Homo sapiens: one gene and its partner. The protein of the gene in region 2 purifies or fractionates together with the protein of the main gene of each other region. This does not show direct contact. Each region holds a gene or a part of one and is shown on either strand. Other genes may lie near its edges.

Evidence for each region.
Region 1: the proteins of IRX1 (region 2) and TRPC4AP purify together in Homo sapiens (affinity purification with mass spectrometry; one large-scale study listed by BioGRID and IntAct). This does not show direct contact.

The regions. Positions count from the first base shown.
Region 1 is NC_000020.11:35,009,005-35,012,807, forward strand, and holds part of TRPC4AP (short transient receptor potential channel 4-associated protein), read right to left. Parts: intron 1,285-3,803; coding exon 1,183-1,284; intron 175-1,182; coding exon of another isoform or gene 162-174; exon of another isoform or gene 55-161; intron 1-54. UniProt on the Homo sapiens protein: Substrate-recognition component of a DCX (DDB1-CUL4-X-box) E3 ubiquitin-protein ligase complex required for cell cycle control.
Region 2 is NC_000005.10:3,594,460-3,598,907, reverse strand, and holds the start of IRX1 (iroquois-class homeodomain protein IRX-1), read right to left. Parts: upstream 3,077-4,448; 5' UTR 2,803-3,076; coding exon 2,527-2,802; intron 1-2,526.

The DNA of each region.
Region 1 (3,803 bases), on a different chromosome or scaffold from region 2:
GAACTGCCAGAGGAGAGCTGTTTATACCAAAAGTGTGTTGAAACAGGTCATGCCAGTCTGCCAGATGGGGAAAGACTCTGCCAATAGGGTGAGGCCCAGCGTACTCCGTGCCTGAGGTTCACTTCCAGCTGGCCTTGGGCAAGTGTCCACAACTCCAAGCCTCAGCTTCCCAGTCTATGAAGCAAAGGCAGGAGATGAGGAAATGACTCTGGCCCCGTCATGGGGGAAGGAAGACGGCCAGGCACGCAGGGGTCTGGGCCCTTCAAACAGAGCAGCTCTGCTGTGATCCACTGCAGACATCAGGGCAGGACTGGGTACAATTTTATTTGAATGAAGAGTTCTGCTACCTTAGAAAAAAAAGATTGGGAGGCCAGGAGAGGTGGTTCACACCTGTAATCCCTGGACTTTGGGAGGCTCACTTGAGGCCAGGAGTTCGAGACCAGCCTGGGCAACATAGTGAGACCCCATCTCTACAAAAAAAAAGTAAAAACACTAGCTGGGAATGGTGGCGCACACCTGTAGTCCCAGCTACTCGGGCGGCTGAGGCAGGAGAATCACTTGAGCTCAGAAGTTTGTGGCTGCAGTGAGCTATAACACCACTGCTCTGCAGCCTGAGAGAAAGAGCAAGACCTTGTGTCTAAAAAACAAAACAAAACAAACAAACAAAAAAGGTTGGGAAATCATGGCTCTTGTTGGATAAAGTCCACTGTATTCTGACGCCTGTGAGACTAGCCCCCCACTGCCTGGCTCCAGGTGAGGCAAACCTAACCCAGGTAATGCAACCTAACACTTGGCAGCAGGTAAGAGGCTTCTGTCTGTCCTGCTTGGCTGCAGATGCCACCAGGCAAGAAAGGAGCACATAAGCAAAGGGGCTGAATGCACGAGACAAGGCGGTGGGGCAGTGCGGAGCACACATGACTTCTGGCAGGTGACCTCTCTGAGGCTCACCTCATCTGTCAAGTGCAGGTACTGATGGGGCTCCCCTCCTAGGGCTGCTGTGAGGCTCCAATGAGAAAATGCAGGTGACATGAATACAATGCCTGGCACACAGGAGCCCTCAGGACACTGTAGCTGCATGTGAGAGAGGACACGCGTGCATACCTGGATGTGCTCACCGGTGAGCCCCCGGGGAACGTGGGCAGCCGGGATGGGCTGAGGGAAAAGCTGCACCCCTGCACTCACCTGTCGGTGTTGAGGACAGCTTCCACCTCAGGGATGTTGGCCTTGAGAGAGATGGCACTGAGTTCATTCAGCTCCTGGTTGTTGAGTAACAAGTACTTGTTCCTGAAACAAAATGGGTTGGAGGAGGTAAAGGACAGGAACTGGGGCTGCTGGGTCAGCACCAGGCTAGTGTAGGGAGTCTCCTGCCCACTTCCTGTGGACAGAATCTGAGAAGCCACCAGGCACTTTCCTCTAGCACCTCTCACTCCAGCCAGCACCTGCAGGAGGGAACTCTGGGCTCTCAGGCAGTGGAATCTCTCCCTGGCCCCACCCCCATCCCCGACCCCTGCCTGCCACATTCATCGACAAGGCCCCTTCCCTCAGCAGCTCTGGGCCTTTCTCTTTGCCTACATTTCCACTTGTTTTCTCAAAGGCACCAACACCTCAACAGGTCCAATCACACTCAAGCCTGGCCCTGCTGCAGCAGTCCCACCAAGCACCACGGTCACACATCACACAGAGGCCTGGTTAACTGTGACACTTCCCCCGACTTGCCATCCAGGCCTGTCACTGCTGGGTCCTGTGTTCCCAGGACACCAGCTCCCTTTACTAAAAGGTATCCCACAGGAACTGAGTCATCACACGGTGCCAAAAGTGATCTTCAGAATCAGGACTCTGATCCTGTCACTCCCGGTGAAAACACTTCCACAGCTTCCCACTGCATTTAGAACAGACATTTCCTGACTTAGGAGGAGGTTATGTCCTGATAAACCCATCGTATTTGAAAATGCCGTTAAGTTGAAAACATATTGAGGCCGGGCGCGGTGGTTCACGTCTGTAATCCCAGCACTTTGGAAGGTCCAGGCGGGTGGATCACGAGGTCAGGAGTTCGAGACCAGCCTGGCCAACGTGGCGAAACCCCATCTCTACTAAAAATATAAAAAATTAGCTGGGCGTGGTGGCACACGCCTATAATCCTAGCTACTCAGGAGGCTGAGGTAGAATTGCTTGAACCCAGAAGGTGGAGGTTGCAGTGAGCCAAGATCATGCCACTGCACTCCAGCCTGGGCAATAGAGCAAGATTCCGTCTTGAAAAAAAGAAAAAGAAAGAAAACACATTTAATATATCTAACCCACTGAACCTCCTAGCTTAGCCTAGCCTACCTGGAATGTGCTCAGAACACTGACTTCAGCCTACAGTTGGCCATAATCACTGGCAACACGGCAGGCACAGCACAGAGTACTGGTTGTCTACCTTGGTGATCGTGTAGCTGGTCACCATTTTTCTTGAAATACATTCTGAGCTGCAGCTGCAGCTCAGTGCCCAGCATTGCAAGAGTATTGAACTGTTTATCATGAGCCCAGGAAAAGATCAAAATTCAAAATTCTACTTCTGTACCATTGTGAAGTTGAAAAATTCTAAGTGGACCATCTGTATATAAAATCCAGGCCTGTGACTGTGACCCACAACACCCTGTGACTGTGACCCACAACGTCCTGTGCAGCCCAGCCCAGAGCCAAGCCCACATCACTCCCATCAGCTGGCCACAATGGTCTTCCCTCGTTCAGGGGCTTCTGGCTAGAACACACACCCTCTCACATGCCTGTTCACTCAATTCACTACAAGCTGACACTTCAGGTCTTGGCTGGCAAGCCACTTCTGCAGGGGAGAGTTCCTGAGTGTCCTCTGGCCAGTCCTGGACCCTGTCAAATGTCTCTCACAGACCCCGTTCCTCTCCTCCTGAATACCATCTCCACTTATCACTAATGCTCAACGGTGGAATCCTTGGATGAACAACTGTCTCTGTTTTCAGACTCTGCCCTTCATGAGAGCAGGGGCCATGGCTGTTTGCATTCATCCTGATATCCCACAGAGTACTCAGACTGAAGAGTCTGATGAAAGCCAGAGACTCACTTCCTCAGGGAAAACAGCACAGTTCCATAACATATGTGGTGCCATTTTTCAGAAGGTTAACATGCTTCCTGGAGCCCTTCTATGGCTTTCAGCCGGAAAACCTCTCACAGAGGATGGGTGCATATGATGGAGGTGCCCTGGGGCCACAGCTGTCTCCAGGCATGTTCTGTTAGCTCAAATGCAAGGTTTTTAAAATATTTAAACCAACATTTAAAATCAGGACCTTTCACATAAATCTTAATTTCTGCCTTTGCTTGGCAGAAAAAATCAGAAGTTATGCAACAGTGGGCCCAGTTTCCTGTGCACACGCAGCTGGCTGGAGCTGAGCTCACTGAAATTCTTGTTCACTAAGGTCCCCACATCACCTCCCCAATGCCAAGGTCAAGGGTCAGCTGCTAGTCACCCCCTTCCTGCACTGTTTTCCTTACAGCAGAGAGTAATTTTCCTTGTACATTCTCCATCGAAGGTTAAAAAATAAATGAGCGCAGAATGTCTTTCAAGAAAAATGGGAGCACACCTCCTTGTGGAGGGAAGAATCCTCCAGCTGCTCAGTAAGCAGTCGGCTTTGCCTGTCTGAAGTTCCTGCCGGCCCCTGGGAATAGCCACGCTGTCCACTCTTGCTTTAGAGGGGCAGTAGGTTGAGAAATCCATTGATTCCAAAGGTAGTAAGGGGCCAACGACTTCCATACTCAGTTCCTGGGGTGGCTATGAGGGTTAGAAGAAAGCT
Region 2 (4,448 bases):
AGAGGCCGCGGCCCCTGCAAGTTCCCTAGGCGACCCCTGTCCCCACCACCAACCGCTGGAGAAACCTGCATTTCCAAGTTTATCTTTCACTAGCTAGAGGGAAAAACCTTTCAACTGAGCTGATAAAGCCATTTCTCCAAACGTAAAGGGCCCAGAGCCCAAGCCTCCTCTCTGCCACCCAGAGGGGGCTCAATCAAAATAAACCATCCCGGGTTTTCTACCGGTCTAAATCCGCCAGCAATTTAAAACGAAAGCACAGTCCTTTGCCTTCCAAATTAATCTGCATATAATGGTTTACCCACATTAAAAGGTCTTTAGAGGTGACAGGTAATTTAAAATTTTAATCCCGGCCATCATCGACAACAATAACAAAAACACCATTTTTTTTTTTAATACAAAAGGAAGGCTTAGCCTGTAAAATATTAACGCAAGGGCTGGGAGCCACCGGCGGCCAGGAGGGGAACCGGTTCAGTATCCTAGGCCTCTTCTCAGTTACTTCATCTCTTAAGTTTGACTTTGATCTGGAGGGAGCAAACACTAGCTGTTTGCAGGCATTTAGAGGCGCTGATTTATTTGCAATCGATATTCTTTTTATAATCAGTAGTAAAACACAGCAAGTCAAATTATCCCATCAGGTTTTTTGGTAAATAACATTTTATCTTTCTAACAACCTCATTAGGCCTCATTATTACCATAAATTGCGCAGACAGACATTCAAATACAATTTTATCTTTTGACTTCCAAACACCCAATTATAATGGCTTGGAAACCTAGGCCTAGAATCAGGGTTTGGGTTTGAGTTTACTCTCTCAGAACCAGTGGGAGAGCTGGAGAAACACACACCTTTTGGGTGGGAATAATTTTTACATATTATCCCTCTAGGTGGGAAAAACAACTCAGAACAGCAAACATCTCCCTTCCCCAGCTCTCCACAAAGGGTGCAGGTCCTCACACTGAAGCTCTCTCCCTCCCCCGCAAACACAGGCAGGGTTCCCAAATGGCACACAACTGCATTCGCAATTTCTGTAAAAAATATTCATCCTCTGAAAAAATGGTCTAGTTGCAATGTTAGCAAAGGGAGTTCCGGACTCTGAGAAAGTTGTAAAGACCAGAAGATTTCTTGGACTAATTAGTTTGGTGACTGAGGCCGCAGAGAAAACATTTCTGCGGCTAGATTTCGTTTTTGCCCAATCGTTCCAAAATGTACTTTGCGCTTTTCTAATTATTTTGGTTGTAATTGTAAAGAAGACGTTTCAGCCTCGTCTCCACTGGGAATTCTTTTTGAAAGGACACCTTGTAAATCTCTCATCGCGTCCCGGCCTCCCCGCCGCCTGAACAAAATGGGGGCTGATCTTTTTCGATAGTAAGAGACCTGAAAGGCAGCCGGGCCGCTTTCTTTCAAAACTACAAGAAAAGTTACAGGGAAACCCGCTCTTTGCTTGTGCACACTTGAGGGGCGTTTACTCCCCGCTTCTCCTGCGGGGAGCGGGGAGATATCGCGGGTGCTTGGAAATTGCTTTATCCCGCGGGCAGCGACCCAGGAGGGGGCTGCCTCCCAGGGCCCCGCGCCCGCCGCACAATTCACCAGCCGTCCGAAGTTTAAGCACCGACCTTGCAGTCAGACCAAGGAAAATGGATGATTTGGACCGGCAGACAGGCCAATGCCCCCGCGGAGAATTAAGTGTGCAGCCGCCTGCCCCGACATCTAACGCCCACTGGGACGGGAGACTAAGAGGACACCATTTGTTTTAAGCCAAGGGACACTGTTTTCTTTAATCCTCCATTATGTAACGCAGGAAGAAAAGTGCTTTTCTTTCTGTGCAAATGAAATGAAAACTTGGGCAACTTACAAAAGTAAAATCAAACACCGTTTCAGACACCAGCACATTACTGCAACTTAATTTTTGTTTAATCTCAAATTCGCACTCACGCCGTGGAGAGACCTCTCCATCCCTTTGGACCTCTATTGTTAAGATTATTTTGATTGACTCTACCAGGCTTAGAAGGGGTCTGTCTGGCAAACTCGGATACAACTATCTCGGAGCTGCTAAAGAGGGAGAAAACCAAGTTTTCCAGACTCGGTTCGAAAACTAAAGAGGCCGCGCGAGTGGAACCCGCGGCCAGGAAGGGAAGTCCTGCTACGCTACGCCGGGCCGACCTGCAGGAACCCCGTGGGCCTGCCCGGGCGCCCTGGCCGAGCCAGGCGAGTTTGCCCCCGACCTCCAGCGCGGGCACCGCTCCACGGGCCTGCTTCTGCGGCCTCTCTGAATTCACTCGCTACCCGCTCCCTGGCCCGGGCCTTCCGCTTTCCCAGGCCGAGATGGCCCAGCCGTCACCCGCCCGGCCTCCCAGCCCTCTTGCGTCCCCGGGGGCCGCGGCCTCGGCCACCGGGAACCTGCCCCCGGACCTTTCTAGTTCCTCTTCCGGACCAGGTCCACCCGTAGTCTCTCCCTCCCGGGCGACCCGCCACCCTTGCCCTGGCGCGGGTGAGACAGAGGAGAAGCGGGGGAGGCCGGGCGCACTCACCATCTGCGAGAAGAGGCTGAGATCCGCGGCGTAGGGCAGGAAGGCGCTGTAGTTGGGCGCGCCCGCGTACGGCCCCGCCGCCGCGTACATGCCCAGCACCGAGGTGACTGCAGCCGCGCCTGCCCCGCCGCCCAGCTCCGCGGCCCCCGGTCGGCCCGACGAGGCGGCGGCAGCCGCCGCAGCGGCCGCGGCCAGCACCCCCGGGCGCTCGCCGCCGTAGGCGCCCGGCCCCGCGGCGCTCAGGTACTGCGGGTAGCCCAGCTGCGGGAAGGACATGTCCGCGGACTCGGCGACCGCCGCAGCGGGCGAGTATTAAAGGCGCGGGGAGGGAGGCGGAGGCCGGCCGGAGGGGGTTGCAGGGGGCGCCGCGAGGGGTCTAGGGAGGAGCGGGCGGCCGGCCGGGCGCGCTCGGGCGGGCCGGGAGATGGAGGCCGGTCGCGGCTCCTCTGCCCGGTGCTCGCAGGCGCCCGGCTCCCGGCTGCGCCCGGATCCGCAATCGCGCGCCGACTGCGGCGGCCGCCCTCCGCTCGGCGGCGGGGCTTTCAGACACAATTTGAAGTTGATGCTTTGATTGGCATCCCCTTGAGCGCAGGCCCCGCCCCTGGCTCCCCTCCCGCCCCCTCCCTGCCTCCCGCCCGCCCTCGCCGGCCGCTCCCGCCCCTCCCGCGAGCACGTGGTGCCCCGTGCCGGCCCGGCCAGCTACTCTCGCGGTGGGCGCGCGCGTCGGGGCGGCGGGGTGTGGGCCCGGAGGCCGTGGGCTCCTTCCCGACCAGCCCCCGCAGCTGTCTGACAACCTGTCGACACGGGTTTACAGCTGTCTGACACCGGGTTTGCAGTTTCGCGGCCGAGGTGTGTCCCCTTTTTAACAAAAACAACTTGGCGCCTGCTTTTCTACTGTTTGGGCAGCGGGGAAGGGGCCGGCGGCCTGGACGCTGGTGACAGCGAGGGGGGAGCGGCCTCTCCCCCGAGTCCCGCGCGGCCGGGGCCTCCAGGGGACATCTTTGGCAGAAGTGCACCCGGACGCTCTCCGCGAGCCACTGAACCGGCGTGGCGTGACACCCCCGACTCCAGATGCGGGTTCCCGTGGGCCCCTACTGGGTAGTAACCGATCGTCTGCCAATGACCGGCCTCGCCGCCCTTGGGGAAGCGGGGAGCGGCCGAGCTCTGCGGGCTCTTTCAATTGTGCAAACTTTGAGCGAGGGCAAATCCCGCGGAGAAGTCGCCAGCTCGGGGGAAGCAGGCGCAGTCGGCGCCGCGGGTTCTCGGAGGGAGGGGTGGGGGAGACGCGGGGGGAGGGGCTTTCTCTTCACCCAGAAAGCCCCCTGGCAGCCGGAGGGAAACATCCCCCGCGCCCCCGCGAAGGGGGAAGACGGTGTGGCCTGGACGCCCGGTTTGTCCACCAGGTGTGCAGAGGCAGACAGGAAACTTGTGTGGAACGCGCGAACCCGAGTCGGCGCCGCCGCCAGACCGGCAACGGAGCGGCCTCTTGGGTCCAAGTCCCGCGTCCCTCTTCTCCCTGCGTCTCCCCTCTCCATCCTCAGCCTCGTCGGGCTACAGGACGCGGCCAGGCGCGGCGCACTTGAGATGGGCTCCGTTTCGCCGCGGCCCTGGCCGTGCGGCTCCCGGGAGAAGATGCCAAGTGCACGGGCCTCCTCGCCTCCCTGAGCCTGGGAAGGCGCTGGCAGGCCACTTCTGCGCCTCGTGGCTGGAGAGCTCCGGACGGTGCCGTGGGGAACCGGGTACCAGTCCCGGCTCCCGGGGCCACTTTGCGAACCACCTCCTACGCAGAGACGGGGCCGGGAGTTCACCCCGCTGCGGCTCTCCAGCACACCGGACTCCGCGGGAATTTCAGCAGCGCACTCTGGCGTCTTCTCGGCTTTAGGCCGGGTTGGGGCTACGGGATGAAGGCGGCCATCGGGCCA